Linked DNA regions of Homo sapiens: region 2 is linked to region 1. Evidence: fine-mapped expression QTL. A gene starts in region 1. The other region holds a variant in brackets. All regions are shown on one strand. Distances are between the middles of the regions. Region 1 holds the start of BBLN (bublin coiled coil protein). Region 2 has its middle 10 kb from the start of PTGES2-DT.

What was found. PIP is the estimated chance that this variant, and not a neighbour inherited with it, causes the effect. A credible set is the group of variants that fine-mapping cannot tell apart.
Region 2: its variant is the best candidate, but not a certain one, in a credible set for the expression of BBLN in testis (GTEx, PIP 0.73).

What each region holds. Positions count from the first base shown.
Region 1 is chr9:128,156,229-128,164,228 of GRCh38, forward strand. It overlaps BBLN (bublin coiled coil protein), which reads left to right and starts at 4,037. Exons shown (of 2, transcript NM_024112.4): 1 at 4,037-4,258; 2 at 7,215-7,696. The coding sequence starts at 4,180. The coding sequence ends at 7,387. RefSeq lists silencers at 88-288, 1,562-1,757, 3,777-3,986, 4,197-4,286 and enhancers at 2,938-3,891, 3,892-4,845.
Region 2 is chr9:128,134,598-128,142,764 of GRCh38, forward strand. No RefSeq gene overlaps it. Among named protein-coding and RNA genes, the nearest start is that of PTGES2-DT, 10 kb to the left of the region's middle. RefSeq lists an enhancer at 3,413-3,912 and a cis regulatory region at 7,529-7,702. The variant T/A (reference allele first, on the strand shown) is at 3,530.

The DNA.
Region 1 (8,000 bases):
ACCCCTTAGCCTGTGGCTCCTTCCTCCTTCAAAGGCAGTGGAGCATCAGCAAATCTCTTTCTCTGCTGAGGGCCTCACTCTCAGCCAAGGAGGGCAGGCTAGGCTGGGCACCATGGCTCACATCTGTAATCTGAGCACGTGGGGAGGCTGAGGTGGGAAGATCACTTGAGTCCAGGAGTTTGAGACCAGCCTGGGCAAGATGGTGAAACTCTGTCTCTACAAAATTGAAAATATTAGCCAGGCGTGGTGGTGGTATGCCTGTAATCTCAGCTAATCTGGAGGCTGAGGTGGGAGGATCACTTGAGCCCAGGAGTTTGAGACCAGCCTGGGCAAGATGGTGAAACCCTCTCTCTACAAAAATAAAAATATTAGCTGGGTGTGGTGGTGGTGCACCTGTAGTCTCAGCTAATCCAGAGGCTGAGGTGGGGAGTTTGAGGCTGCAGTGAACTATGATTGTGCCACTGCACTACAGCCTGGGCCACACAGTAAGACTCTGTCTCTAAAAAAAAATTAATTAATTAATTAATTAAATTTTAAAAAGGAGGTGAGCCTGACCTGGATGAGAGGCCGTTCCCCAAAATTCTTTGGGTGCTGGTTCAATGTCCTTCTTGCTCTCGCTCAATCTAGTTCAGGGAGGAGAAGGCAGGGCTGACCATGTGCAAGTCGCTGGAGACCCTCACAGCAGGCTTCAGATTCCACCATGCCCCTGCCTTCCTCAGGTAGAACAGTGAGGGTGGCTTCTGGGACAAGAGAGGATTCCACCCCATTGTCATTGTCTGGGATACATGCTTGGGCCTGACCTGGCATTGAGGATGGCCTGCCCACAGGGACAGCCAGTGTGAGACCAGGTCCAGGCTGCTGCAGCCATGATGCCTCCATGCACTACAGCTACTGGAGTCCCAGTAGGTGAGCCCCTCTGCCTAGAACGTGGGCCTGATTCTCAGCTGGACCCCTGGGCAGGATCATAGCTCTGGGTCCAACCCAGGGGTGACACTTGCCGGCTGGGTGACTGTGGGCAAGCCGCCTTCTCCTAGCTGGAAGTAGAATGTGGGATGACAGCAGCTGGGCCGATTGTCATGAAGCCTTTCTTGATGAGCAGTCCATGAAGCACTCTGCCCACGGCCCTCTACCCTCCACTGCAGCACTCACAGGCGGGGGCAGCAAACCTTTCCTTTATTGGAGAATGTGACACACAGTCCTGGGTGGGTTTGAGGTGAGCTTGAACTAAGGGAAGCCTCACCCCTGTCCTGCCCCTGTCCCAGTTAAGGGGCTCTCCCTAAAATGAACTATTCCTACTTCTCTTTATTTTTTAAAAAATTAAATCTAGCCAGGAATGGTGGTTTACACTTGTAATCCCAGCACTCTGGGGGGCCAAGGCGGGTGGATCACCTGAGGTCAGGAGTTCGAGACGAGCCTGGCCAATATGGTGAAACTAAAAATACAAAAATTAGCCGGGCATGGTGGCATACACCTGTAATCCCAGCTACTCGGGAGGCTGAGGCAGGAGAATTGCTTGAACCCGGGAGGCAGAGGTTGCAGTGGGCCAAGGTCGCACCACTGCACTCCAGCCTGGGTGACAGAGTGAGACTCTGTCTCAAAAAAAAAAAAAAATTAAATTTTTATTTAATCTTTTTTTCTCTTTGGCTTCTCAAAGTTCAACTTAAAAAGGTAGCTCCAGGGACCAGGCGCGGTGGCTTATGCCTATAATCCCAGCACTTTGGGAGGCCGAGGTGGGCTGATCACGAGGTCAAGAGATCGAGACCATTCTGACAAACATTGTGAAACCCCGTCTCTACTAAAAATACAAAAATTAGCTGGGCGTGGTGGCGTGTGCCTGTAGTCCCAGCTACTCAGGAGGCTGAGGCAGGAGAATCACTTGAACCCAGGATGTGGAGGTTGCAGTGAGCCAAGATTGCGCCATTGCACTCCAGCCTGGCGACAGGGCAAGACTCCGTCTCAAAAAAAAAAAAAAAAAGAGGTAGGTCCAGGCCGGGCATGGTGGCTCACACCTGTAATCCCAGCATTTTGGGAAGCCAAGGCAGGTGGATCACCTGAAGTCAGGAGTTTGAGACCAGCCAGGGCAACATGGTGAAACCTCGTCTCTACTAAAAATAAAAAAAATTAGCTGGGTGTGGTGGCAGGCACATGTAATCCCAGCTACTCAGGAGGCCGAGGCACAAGAATTGCTTGAACCCGGGAAGGAGAGGTTGCAGTGAGCTGAGATCATGCCACTGCACTCCAGCCTGGGCAACAGAGCAAGACTCTGTCTCAAAACAAACAAACAAACAAAGGTAGGTCTGCTCCAGGCCAAACTTTTTATTTATTTATTTTTTGAGACGGATTTTCGCTCTGTTGTCCAGGCTGGAGTGCAGTGGTGCAGTCTCAGCTCACTGCAACCTCTGCCTCGTGGGTTCAAGTGATTCTCCCACCTCAGCCTCCTGAGCAGCTGGGATTACAGGCACACGCCACCACGCCCGGCTTATTTTTGTATTTTTAGTAGAGACGGGTTTTCACCATGTTGGTCAGGCTGGTCTCAAACTCCTGACCTCGTGATCTGCCCGCCTCGGCCTCCCAAAGTGCTGGGATTACAGGCGTGAGCCACCAGGCCTGGCCTTTTTTTTTCTTTTTTTTGAGACAGGGTCTTGCTCTGTTGCTTAGGCTGGAGTGCAAGGGCACGATCTCTGCTCACTGCAACTTCTGCCTCCCAGTTCAAGTGATTCTCCTGCCTCAGCCTCCTGAGTAGCTGGGACTACAGGCGTGTACCACCACACCTGGCTAATTAAACATTTTATTTTTAATTAATTAATTAATTTTTTTTTTTTTAAAGACAGGGTCTCACTCTGTTGCCCAGGCTGTAGTGCAGTGGTGCAGTCATAGCTCACTATAGCCTCGAACTCCTGGGCCCAAGTGATCCTCCTGCCTTAGCCTCCCAAACAGCTGCAACTAAGGTGCATGCCACCAGGTCTGGCTAATTTTTTTTGTGCTTTCTGTAGAGACGGGGGTGGGGGGGGCTGAGTGGGCGGGGGTGGGAGTAGGGTGTCTCACTATGTTTCCCAGGCTGGTCTCCAACTCCTAGGCTCAAGCAATCCTCCCACCTCGGCCTCCCGTAGCGCTGGGATTACAGGTGGGAGCCACCCCGCCTAGCTAATGTTCCTGTTTCTCTTGTCCAGAGCTGGAGTCCAGCCTGATTCCCACCCACAGGTTGTAACCAATGAGCCCTAAGAGAAGCGCTGAAGACCAGGAAGGCCCAGATCCAGGGGTAGGGGTGTTGGGTCCTCTCCACTGGGGTGCAGGCAGAGAGGCAAAGAGGAAGGAGACCCTTCGTGACTCTCAGCGAGGCTGTGAAGAAGAATATCCGGAAGCCACAAGAGGTATATCCGGAAGCCACAAGAGGTGTGGAAACCCCGTTTCCAAGGCTGGGCCCAGTAGCTCGTGCCTGTAATCCCAGCATTTTGGTAGGCTGAGGCGGGTGGATGGCTCGAGCTCAGGAGTTCGAGAGCAGCCTGGGTAACATGGCGAAACCCCTCCCCCCCCCCCCCCCCCGTCTCCAAAAAATACAATAGCCAGCGTGGTGCAGCCGTCTGTAGTCCCAGCTACTCTGGAGGCTCAGGTGGGAGGATCGCTTCAGGCTGGGAGGCAGAGATCACCCCACTGCATTCCAGCCTGGAAGACAGGGCCAGGCCCTATCTCAAAAAATAACAAGGAAACCCCGTTTTCGATTTCGCCAACGCGGAGGGGCCGAAGCAGCAGATGGGCTTGGACGGTCTCCCGCCGCTCCTCCCGGACCTCCCTACTCCTGGGCTTTTCCAGGGGCAGCCCCGTGGTGGCCCCGCCCAGCGCCCGGGAGAGGGGCGAGGCCGGGGGCGGAATGGGCGGAGTTCGACTGTGAGGGAGGTGGAGGCGGGAGTCCGGTGGTGGGGGTGGAGTCTGGAGGTAGGGCGGGGCCAGAACAGCGGCGGGGGCGGAGTTCCGGCTGGGGGCGGGGCGGGGCGGAGCGGGAGCTGCGGGATTCCGGCTTCAGGGGCGGGGCACCGGCCTCTGGGCGGAGATCTGCTGCCGCGTTCTACCCTTCCGGCCCGTGTTCTATCCGCCGCCTCCACCTTCCATCCGGCGCCGGCTTTCGGCGCGACGGTCGCCGCGTTCCATCGTCGCGCGGCCCTTCGGGCGCCCGAGCCCGCAATGTCGGGCCCCAACGGAGACCTGGGGATGCCGGTGGAGGCGGGAGCGGAAGGCGAGGAGGACGGCTTCGGGGAAGCAGGTGACCCGAGGGGGCTGCTGGAGCAACCTTGCATTTTCAGGGCTGCCCTCCCGGGAAGGGGAATCGAGATGGGGTCTCGGAAGGGAACAAAGAGCCCACCCATTCCGCCCCGAGCGGGTCCGGAGTTGTAGGTGCTGTCTCGGATGCAGGGCGAGCACCCGCGAGCCGGTTCCCAGCCCCGTGAGAGCTGCAGGTCACCAGTCCCGTTTTACAGATGGGGAAACTAAGGCAGCTTCGGGGACACTCGCCCTTGTGGGCCTTGCTCCACCACTTCCTTCAGTCCTGGGGGAGACCGAGGCACCTGAGGGAGGCAGGGTTGAGCTTAGCGGAGGGGCCGGGCCGGGACGTGGAGTTGGGGACGCGGGGGCGTCGCTCTGCCGATTCAGCATCCCCAGCCACCCGGCTTTGCTGGTGTAGCCTCACAGCCTTGCCAAATGTCAGCAGCTTACAGAGCAGCCTTTTGCGTGCTTACGAGTGCAGGGGTGGGGTGTGAAGAGAACCATCGGCTCCCTTCTCACCTTCTTCAGCCTCAGTTTCCCCCTCTATAAAATAGGAATAACGATTAGTGTCTGCTGCACTGGGATGTGTCAGAATTAAATGCAAAAAAAAGGAAAATCCTTAGCAGGTTCTAGCATGCAAGAGTTCAGTAAATGGTTATCGTCATTATTATCTTTGGTATAGTAAAGATTGGCATGTTAACATACACTGAGGATTTAGTAAATGTGGTGTAAGTATGGTGCATGCTCTTTGTTTTGTTTGGCGTAACAGCTTTATTGAGCTATACAACTTACCCATACTGTACAGTTCAGTAGGCTTTTGTGTATTCCCAGGGTTGTACATCCATCACAATAGTTTCAGGTAGCTCTGCATTGGGCAATGCTGTTGGGAGCATCAGGAAGAGCTTCCCAGGAGGTCACATTAAGTGGATGTTGGCAGACAGGACTTAGAACAGTGGGGAGGAGGGTGGTGTCCCAGGCAGAAGCAAAGGCTTGGAACTGGGAAGTACCCTTGACACAGATAAAGCCTGGCCTGGAGGGGTGTGGGGCACCTGCCTCCCCAATTCCTCCTCCTAGCCTGTATCCCAGGACACAGAGTTCGAAATATTGATAATAATGACCATCCACTAAGTACTTGCTGTGGCCAGATCCTGTCTGAGCTTTTTTTTTTTTTTTGAGTCGGAGTCTTGCTCTGTTGCCCAGGCTGGAGTACAGTGGCGTGATCTTGGCTCACTGCAACCTCCGCCTTCTGGGTTCAAGCGATTCTCATGCCTCAGCCTCCCGAGTAGCTGGGACTACAGACGCCTGCCACCACGCCTGGCTAATTTTTATACATCTTTAGTAGAGACAATGTTTCACCACGTCGGCTAGGCTGGTCTCGAACTCCTGACCTCAGGTGATCCACCCGCCTTGGCTTCCCAAAGTACTGGGATTACAGGCGTGAGCCACCACACCGGCCACTGTCTGAACTCTTGATGTGTTTGAATCCTCACAACCTTTTTTATTTTCCCTTTTTTCCAGAAAGGTACAACTTGCTGGGGTAAAGCAGAGCTGAAATTCAAACCCAAGTGACCCTGACCCCCAAGTCCAATCCTGAGTTTCGGCTGTTACCAACCTGGAGGACCCTGGGCAGGTTCCTTCCTTCTGAGGCCTCGGTTTCCCTAGCTATATACCATGAGGGGGTTGGACTTTAAGATGCAGCCGATTTCCCAGGACGCTGTCGTCTGTGAGGGTGGCTGGCTCTAGGCAACGGGTGCCCTTTCCTAGAACACAGGCACATATGCACCCATAACCCAGATACGCTCCTCCAGCTCCTCCACCGGCTGCTTCCCCCTTGGTCTCAAGCTGGCAGCTGAGTGTATGTGAGTCATGGGCTGGCTCAGAACTGGGTCCCGCAGTGGGCACAGGCCCAGACCTTGAGTCCTCAGGGACACTGTGTTGCTGAGCAGGGCAGCTCTGGAGTGGCCGTGGAGGGGAGGGAGTGATGGTTTCTAGTGGAGACCAGGGAAGGCTTCTTGGAGGAGGCATTTTGAGCTGGTCCTTGAAGGGCTGTTGTGGTTGAGGCATTCTAGGTTGCAGGGATAGTTGAGCAATGGCGGAGAGGCTGGAAAGTCAGAGGCTTCATTCATTCACTCACTCAGTCATTCAACAAATGCTTATTGCAAAACTGTGAGGGCACCAGGGAGCCAGCAGCGAACACAGGACCGTTCATCTTTCATGGGGAAACATAACAGCACTCAGATAAGCACAGCAGTCAATCCTGGAGAGAAGGTCGTGGAGGGCTGAGGAGGGCTAGGGGCTCAGCATAGAGGCCTGATCCAGTCTGGGGCATTGGGTGGGCTCCCGGTGGTGACATCCATACTGAGACTTGAAGGATGAGTGGGACTCATCCAGGAGGAGAGAAGGGAAGGAAGATGGGAGGACCCAGCACCTTCCAGGCAGAGACAGCAGCATGTTCAAAGGGCCTGAGGTAGGTAAAGGCAGGTGTGAGAGAGGAAAGGAAGAGGCAGGGAGGCAGGGCTAGCTAGGAGGCAGGGGCTGGAGACTCCGCTGGGTGTTTTATCCTGAGGGAGCCACAGAAGGGCTGGCGAACAGGGCCCATCTGGGGACAGAGGCCTTGAATGCCCAACTCAGGAATGTGGGCTCTGGCCACTAAGCAGCTGCTGCAGGAAGTGCAGAGACTTGGCATCTGGCAGGACTTCCCATGTAGGACACTGGCTCGCCACCCTATGACCACCCTAACCCTAGAAAAAAGGATGCAGTACTAAAGTGTCATTCATTCAAAGCCACTCCTCTTTTGGTATTCCACCCATTTTCCAGACGGTGACACTGAGGCTCAGGAAGCAGTAGGGACTTGCACAAAGCCCTTTGGGAAGCAGGCTGGGAAACAGTGGAGGGAGGGTGTCCATTAGCCCCAAGGAGACACAGGATCTGGGCTCTGTCTTTCGCCTTCCTCCCAGAATACGCTGCCATCAACTCCATGCTGGACCAGATCAACTCCTGTCTGGACCACCTGGAGGAGAAGAATGACCACCTCCACGCCCGCCTCCAGGAGCTGCTGGAGTCCAACCGGCAGACACGCCTGGAGTTCCAGCAGCAGCTCGGGGAGGCCCCCAGTGATGCCAGCCCCTAGGCTCCAAGAGCCCCCAACCGGGACCCAACCCTGCCTCCCTGGGCTAGGCTCTGGCCTGGGCACTCACCCCCTGGCTTAGACACCTTCTCAAGGGCTGGCCTTCAGGGACCCCTGGTGGGTCTGCCTGCCTGGGCCACCCTTCCTGCCTGGGCCTCCCCTTGGCCTACCTGGGCCAGCCCCCACCACCTGGCATGCCCTCCTGGGGCCAAGAGTGGGCCTGCAACCCACCCACTTGCCTGCCCACCCAACTCCTGGGCGCTCCCCACTCTGCCCAGGCCTTGAGTGTCCACATTAAATGGGTCTCCCACACCGCTGTGCCTCTCTCCTCTGTATCCCAGGACGAGAACCCCAGCAGCTGCTGGAGGCGAACAGGACTGTCTAGGTGTTCAGGTGTTGATCCTATACTGGCGGCTCAGAGGCCAGGTGGTAGGGCTGGGGTTCTTGGTCACCTGTACTTCTGGACACAGAAGGTGCAGGTGAGGGCAGGGCTTCCTCCCTACCTGATACATTCCTGGCCAGCAGCTGCTTCCTAGCCCAGAAGCCCAGTTGAGACTGTTGGACATGCTGTGTGACCTTGTGTGATGCTCTCAGCCTCTCTGGGTACTAGGGCCTT
Region 2 (8,167 bases), 22 kb before region 1:
AAGGTGTTTCAATTTTGTTTATCTTTTCAAAAACCCAACTCTCAGTTTCTTTAATCTTTTGTATTATTTTCTAGTCTTTATTCCATTTATTTCTGCTCTGATCTTTGTTTTTGTCTTTCTTCCGCTAACCTTGGACCTAGTTTGTTCTTTTTCTAGTTCCTTTGGAGGTAAAGTCAAGTTGTTTATTTCTGACCTTTCTTTATTCTTAATGTAGACATTTATCAATATAAACTTTCCTCTTAGAAATGGTTTCACTGCATCCCATAAACTTTGGTGTGTGATATTTCCATTTTTATTTGTTTCCAGATATTTTTTGAATTCCCTTTTGATTTCTTCTTTGACCCACTGATTATTCAGGAGCTTCTTGCTTCATTTCCACTTTTGTGAATTTTTCAGTTTCCTCCTTTGATTGATTTCTAGTTTCATAACATTGTGGCTGGAAAAGATCCTTGATGTGATATCAATCTTCTTGAATTTGTTAAGACTAGTTTTATGGCCTAACATATGATATGTCCTGGAAAACATTCCCTGTGAGCCCTTGAGAAGAATGCCCCATCTGCTGCTGTTGGATGCTATGTTCTGTATATGACTGTTAGGTCCATTTAGTGGAAAGTATAGTTCAAGCCCAGTGTTTCCTCTTGATTTTCTGTCTGGACGGTCAGTCCATTATTGAGAGTGGGGTACTGAAGTTCCCTACTGCTGTTGTACTCCTGTCAATTTTTCCCTTCAGGGTTGCTAACATTCACTTTATATATTTAGGTGCTCAATGGTGGGCATACATTTTTATATGCTGTATATCTGGGAATGTTTGAATTTCTCCCTCATTTTTGCATCTGTTGAAAGCCTTCGACTTTCTGCTTTATTTCTTCCCCTGATCCTTGTCCTGGTACCCCCTGCAGCTCTGACATATGGCAGCAGTCAGTACTGCCCCCAGGGTCTCCATCCTGATATCCCAAGCAGGCTGCCCTTCGCATCAACACTCCAAGATGCGTGGGACAGAAACCAGTTCCACAGGCAGCCCGCAGACAAGCCAGAACCCTGTAAACATGTTTCGGTCTTTCCCTTGTGTCCCCAGGGAGGTACCAGGAGTAGGGTGGCCTCCTCCTGACCGTGCTGGGAAGGAGGTGGGGCAGAGGTGAGCCAAATGCCACAACATTTCCTGCTGCTTTGAGTGTGGTTTTGTCCTCATTGGGAGTTGGCGTGATTGCTGCAGATCCTTAACCAGTTCCTGGAGTTCCCACTAGGCGACCTGGAGCCATGCATTGCCCCTCGCCTGGTGCTTCCACAGAGGAGCAAGGGTCTACAGCACCCTAGGCCACTGTCCTGCTGACATCACTCCTGCACAGCCTTTCCCTTTCACTAAATCACATCAATACTGCCTTTCCTCTGATGAGGCCTCCCAACCTCCATCTGGCCTCTAGGGCCCTTGTGCACAGGTCTTTTTTATAACATGTGCCCCATTCTGTTCCAGCAGAATTGCTCTCCTTCTCCAAGCATGAGAACCCCTGGGGACTTGCTGGAGCCAGAGTCCCAGGATCATCTCCCTGTGAATCCAGGCAGAACATCTGGGCTAGAACCCAGAAATCCACGTCTCTAGCAAGTGCCGCTGGTGATTCTTAACAAGGAGCCTGTGGAACAATAGAGTCTTACTGAGAAATGTCATCTCCCAAACTCAGCGAAATTCTACGAGATAAAAGGGTGATCGCCAACATCTTTGCCCACTTACTGCATGCAGACACTGCTCTGCACACTAGATGCGTATTAGCTCAGTTAATCTTTCAGTAACCTGTGCAATCAGTCCTATTATCATCCCATTTTACAGATGAGAAAGCTGAGGCATAAAATGCTTAAGCAATTTGCCCAGGTGACCTAGCTGGTAAGTAGAGGATTTCAGCTTGAGCCCAGGCCTTTATCTCCTTGCTCATAGTCTTCATAGCTCTGCTATACGTGTTTAATTATTCAAGGCTGTCCCCTCACAGATGTCATGATATTGTAGCATGCCAACAGGCCGCAGCCACTTGCACACCATAAAGGCCTCATCTCTGGCTATGCCCACAGCAAAAAAAAAAAAAAAGTAAAAAGTAAATAATGACTACTCCCACTAGGATATCCCTTCATGTAGACCAAGGGCCCTTTTTAAGCTCCTCACTCATCCTGCCCAGGCAGCATTTGGTACTGTTGACTACAGGCTTCTGGAAGAGCTCTTTTGCCTGTGTTCTGATGAGGTATTCTCCAGCTCCTCTCACTGAGCTGTTTTTGTGGGTGCTCTCCTCTGCCCTTCCATGAAGTGCTGGTGTGCATGGGGGCTTGTATCTAAACCCTCTTCTCCTGGACAACCTCACCATCCACATACCAGCAACTCCCACCCCTGGGTGTTCTTCCCAGACCTGTCTTCTGCATCCCAGACGCAGACCACTGCTCGCTGCTTCTCTGTGGACAGGACTTTAACCTAACCAGCTCAGCATGTGCGACGCTAAGCCGAGGGCCCACCTCCCAGGTATGCCTTCTTTCCAGCTCCCTGCCCATTACCCAGGCAGCTGTCCAACCAGACATGTTTGGGTTCTTACGGCTCTGAGGTGTGGTCTTGGACACATCGATCCTCATAAATGTTCCGTATGTATTGTAATCCACCAGGCTGAGCTCACTTTTCCACTAAATCATGCCTAACTGACAGTGGCTGACCACAATCAGAGTTCATTTCGTCTTCACACAACATGACGAGGTGGCTGCTTCTCGTGACTGGGCAGTGACTCAACAAAGCACCAGTGGTCCCAGCCCTACCTCTTACAGCCCTTCCCTCTACCGTGCCCTGGATCTTCTGGGTCACTTCTCATCACGCTCCAAAGCTCTGCTCAGACCTTCCCTCATCCAGAGACTGCTGCATGGTCCCTGCATCAAAATGGTGAGCTGTGGGACGGGACCACAGGGCCCCTTATGCAGAGCTGGTAGGAAGTTGAAGGAGCGCCTGGCTACACACCCCTCTCAGGATGCTGGTGTGTGGTAGAGGCTCAGAAATGGGCCTCTCCTGTTTCTCTGCACCACCGGTACCACTGCTCCCCATTCACAGCCCTTTCCACACAGGGACAGCCCATGTGTTCCCTGCTCTCCCAAACACTGTGGGGCTGTGAGGACAGGGACTTTGTCTCCTGCCTCTGTCTCCCTGCGGCCCAGCACAGAGCCGCTCTCATGGTGGACATCAATAAATATGCACCCAAGGATTAACTGTAGAGAAAGGGATGACAATAAGAGAAGCAGTTCTAGGTAAGTGGTTCCCGAGCTTTAGTGTGCATCACAATGCCCTGGGCTGTTGGCTTCAATGCAGATTTCTGACTCTGTAGGTCCAGGTGGGGCCAGAGGCTACCACTGCTGGCCCTGCCACCCTTCCCTGGGAGCCCCTGTGTGATAGATGCTGAAATGGAGAGTATAAGATGTTGAGAAACCTTCCCCAAACCGCTGAGGCTGACCCTTCAGGTGCCAAAAGTCACTTTCTGCCAGTCCACCTCCAACTTCAGCCACAGCTGCTGTGGAC[T/A]CTCTGGACAGCTCAGAGCCTCCTGGTGCAACATGGCCCCGCCCAAGGTCAGTGCACCTGTCAGCATCCTGTCCCTAGGGAACTCTGATGCCAGGGAAGCCTTCCAGATCTTACAAGCACAGCCCAGAGGGCAGAGGGATAACAGCCAGTGGAGCAGCAGAAAAACCTCCATTCCCACCCCTCAGGAGAGCGAGACCACCAGGCATGGGGCATTGGAAAGAATCTTCCAGGGGCTGCCATGGTCCCTCCTTGATAATATGCCTCCCCCCACTGCGATGGGGGTCCCAAGAGACAGCGGGGGAAGAGGGGCTTGCTCTCAGTCCCCGCCTCTCGGGGGGTGACTCCCCCGCCTGTGATGGGGGTCCCAAGAGCCAGGGGGAGAAGAGGGGCTGGCTCTCAGTCCCCGCCTAGCGGGAGGTGACTGCCCCCCCTGCGATGGGGGTCTTAAGAGCCAGTGGGGGAAGAGGGGCTGGCTCTCAGGCACCGCCTCGCGGGGGTGCCTCCCCCCCTGCGACCGGGGTCCCAAGTGCCAGCGGGGGAAGAGGGGCTGGCTCTCAGTCTCCGCCTCGCGGGGGGTGAATCCCCCCACTGCGATGGGGGTCCTAAGAGCCAGGGGGGGAAGAGGGGCTGGCTGTCAGTCCCCGCCTCGCGGGGGGTGCATCACCCCCTTCGATGGGGGTCTTAAGAGCCAGGAGGGGAAGAGGGGCTGCCTCTCAGTCCCCGCCTCGTGGGGGGTGCCTCCCCCCACTGCGATGGGGGTCCTAAGAGCCAGGGGGGGTAAGAGGGGCTGGCTCTCAGTCCCCGCCTCGCGGGGGGTTCCTCCCCCCCCACGACGGTGGTCCCAAGAGCCAGGAGGGGAAGAGGGGCTTGCTCTCAGTCCCCGCCATGCTGGGGGTGCCTCCCCGCTGCGATGGCGTCCTAAGAGCCAGGAGGGGAAGAGGGGCTGGCTCTCAGTCGCCGACTCCCGGGGAGTGCCTCCCCCGCCCTCCGATGGGGGTCTCAAGAGCCAGGGGGGGAAGAGGGGCAGCCTCTCAGTCCCCGCCTCGCGTGAGGTGCCTCCCCCTACTGCAATGGGGGTCCTAAGAGCCCGGGGGGAAAGAAGGGCTGGCTCTGAGTCCCCGCCTCGCGGGGGGTGCCTCCCCCCACTGCTACGGGGGTCCTAAGAGCTAGAGGGGGAAGAGGGGCTGGCTCACAGTCCCCGCCTCGCCGTGGGTGCCTTCCCCCCTGCGATGGGGGTCCTTAGAGCCAGGGGGGTAAGAGGGGCTGGCTGTCAGTTCCCGCCTAGCGGGGGGTGCCTCCCCACCCTGCGATGGGAGTACTAAGAGCCAGGTGGGGTAGAGGGGCTGGCTCTCAGTCCACGCCTCGCGGCTGGTGCCTCCCCCCACTGCGATGGGGGTGCTAAGAGCCAAGGGGGGAAGAGGGGCTGGCTCTCAGTCCCCGCCTCACGGGGGTTGCCTCCCCACCAACCGCGATGGGGGATCGTAAGAGCCAGGGGGGAAGAGGGGCTGGCTGTCAGTCCCCGCCTCGCGGGGGGTGCCTCACCCCCCGGCTATGGGATTCCATAGAGCCAGCGGGGGAAGAGGGGCTGGCTCCCAGTCCCCAACTCGCGGGGGTTGCCTCCCCCCCCTGCGATGGGAGTCCTAAGAGCCAGGCGGTAAGAGGGGCTGGCTCTCAGTCCCTGCGTCGCGGTGGGTGCCTCCCCACCCTGCGATGGGGGTCCTAAGGGCCAGGGGGGGAAGAGGCGGAGAGGGTGGTAATAATTCCAGCATCGCAGGCTGTTCACCCAGCATGGGAAATTGTCCTTGATATCCTGAAAGGGAGAGGATGCTCTTATTCCCCATAATAGACAGATATGACTCCCCATAATAGAGCACGATGTGTACACCCACCCTGTGATATTCTTCCTAATATTCAGAGGCCGAGAGGTTGGTATTACTCCCAATATCGCAGGAAGTATACACCCCCGTGTGAGATGGTCCTTAATAATATTCCAAGGCGGAGGGGGTGATATGACTACACAGATGGCAGAAAGTGGACACCCCCCAGGGATATTGCTCCCACGATGCTGGAGGGAAGAAGATGATATGACTGTCAATATGACAGAAGGTGGACACGCCCCCACTCATATTGTTTCTAATTGCAACGTGGGAGAGGAGGATATGACACGCGATATCGCAGGGAGTAGAAACACCCCTGTGATACTGTTCTTAATATTCAGGGAGGAAGAGGATGATATTACTCCCAATACAGACGGGTGTACACCCTCTGTACACCGAGGGTGTACACCCGTCTGTGAAACAGTTCATAATCTCCAGAGGGGGAGATGATCTTACTCACAATATGGTAAACAGGCTGTGAGTCCACCGCGGATCCTAAGAGCCAGCGGGGGAAGAGGGGCTGGCTCTCAGTCACCACAGCATGGGGGGCCTTTATGTTCAGGTTTTGCCCAAGAGTCAGCTTATTTACTTCTTGTACTAGCAGGGCAGTTCTGCCAAGGCCCTCAAACAGGGGGGCCATCCTTTAGAAACCCTGTCTAGTTGTTTAGAGACTTAGGCCACCGGCCTCAGCCAGGGCCCCACAGTTTGGGTTAAAAGTCCAGCTGCCATCTTTTCTCTCTCTGACGCATACAATGGAAAAGGCTTTGTCAGATCGGGTAGCCCCAGGGCTGGGGCTGCCAGAAGTCAGATGTTTTTTTTCTTCTTGAATCTCTTTTGTAAGTTATAGTTTTCTGGGAAATTTCCCATTTCCTTATTTATTGCATTCTTTCGTTACCTTTTTAATAGCTCTAGAACTCTATAGTTCTGCTCCCTTTTTATTTCTTTTTTTTTTTTTTTTTTTTTTTTTGAGATGGAGTCTGGCCCTGTCGCCCAGGCTGGAGTGCAGTGTCGCGATCTCAGCTTACTGCAAGTTCCGCCTCCCGGGTTCACGCCATTCTTCTGCCTCAGCCTCCCCAGTAGCTGGGACTACAGGCGCCCGCGACCACGCCCAGCTGATTTTTTGTATTTTTAGTAGAGACGGGGTTTCACCGTGTTAGCCAGGATGGTCTCGATCTCCTGACCCTGTGATCCACCCACCTCGGCCTCCCAAAGTGCTGGGATTACAGGAGTCAGCCATGGCGTCCGGCCTCCTTTTTTATTTCTATGGTTGTTTATTTGTGTCTTATATCTTTTTGTCATGAGAAATTTCTCCAAATTTCTATTCGATTAGTCTTTTCCAAGAGTCAACTTTTGGCTTCGATAGTCCCATAAAATAGGAAGATCTTTCTCTCTTCTTGATTTCTTCTCCTGATTGTTTTCTTTCTTTCCTTCTTTTTAAACATATTTTATTTTATGATTTTTTGAGACAGGGTCTTGCTGTGTCACCCAGGCTGGAGTGCAGTGGCACGATCTTGGCTCACGGCAACCTCCGCCTCCCGAGTTCAAGTGATTCTCTTGCCTCAGCCTCCTGAGTAGCTAGGATTACAGGTGTGCACCATGACACCCAGCCAATTTTTGTATTTTTAGTAGAGATGGGGTTTCACCATGTTGGCCATGCTGGTCTTGGAACTTCTGACCTCAGGTGATCCGCCTGCCTCAGCCTCCCAAAGTGTTGGGATTACAAGCATGAGCCACCATGCCCGGCCTCAGAGTCTGTTTCTTACTGGATCCTGTTGTCTGGTAGAAGGAGGTCTTCAAAGTTTCCAGACTCCTGTTCAGCCAGGATTGCTTTTGAATGGATCTTCCCCAAGGTTCGCTTGGGCCACAGGAAGACCAGACACCCCTGCCTGCCCTTGGGGAGTGGTAGACCTTGGGCAGCCTCCTCTCCACTGACCAGCAAGAGCAGATCCAGCCCATCCCTCACCTTTAGACTTTTCTTGGCAATAGTTGGACCCCAGTCCACAAGCTCCAAGGCTGGCAGTCAGCTCCTCCTCTACTGTGGTTCTCTGAAATGGCCCTCTTTGGGCAGGAGGCAGAGAAGCGGCTCTCTCCTAGTGCCTGCTCCTAGTGAGGATAATTAGTTAGAAGGAGAGAGACTCAGGTCAGGAAGGAAGGACCTTTGAGGCCTTTGCTTAGGAGGCAAGGCCCTCTGGGTGGCTTGTAATGCTCACAGCACATTTAGTAGGCGGGGACACATTGGATGTGCACTTCGGTGCCTGTATGTACCCTGAGCTACACAGGAAGGGGATGAGGCAGGGTGTGGGGAGGCAGGAAGAGGAGGAGACAGGCTGTGCACGGTGGCTCATGCCTATAATCCCAGCACTTTGGGAGGTGGAGGAAGGAGGATCACTTGAGGTCAGGAGTTGGAGACCAGCCTGGCCAACATGGTACAATGCCCAGCTCTTCCAAAAACACAAAAATTAGCCGGGCGTGGTGGAATGCACCTGTAATCCCACCTACTCAGGAAGGCTGAGGCACGAGAATTGCTTGAATCTGGGCGGACGTTGCAGTGAGCTGAGGTCACGCCATTGCACTCCAGCCTGGGCAACACAGCTAGACTCAGTCTCAAAAAAAAAAAAAAAAAAAAAAGAAGAGAAGGAGACAGTGGGAGGGAGAAGGGCCAGGCTCCCACCCCCCAGCCCCAGCACCTGCCTGGGACACAGCTGAGCCCTGAAGCTCTTCAGCCCTGGGCTGGGGGCTCTCTGAGCAGCCCAGCTGCAGC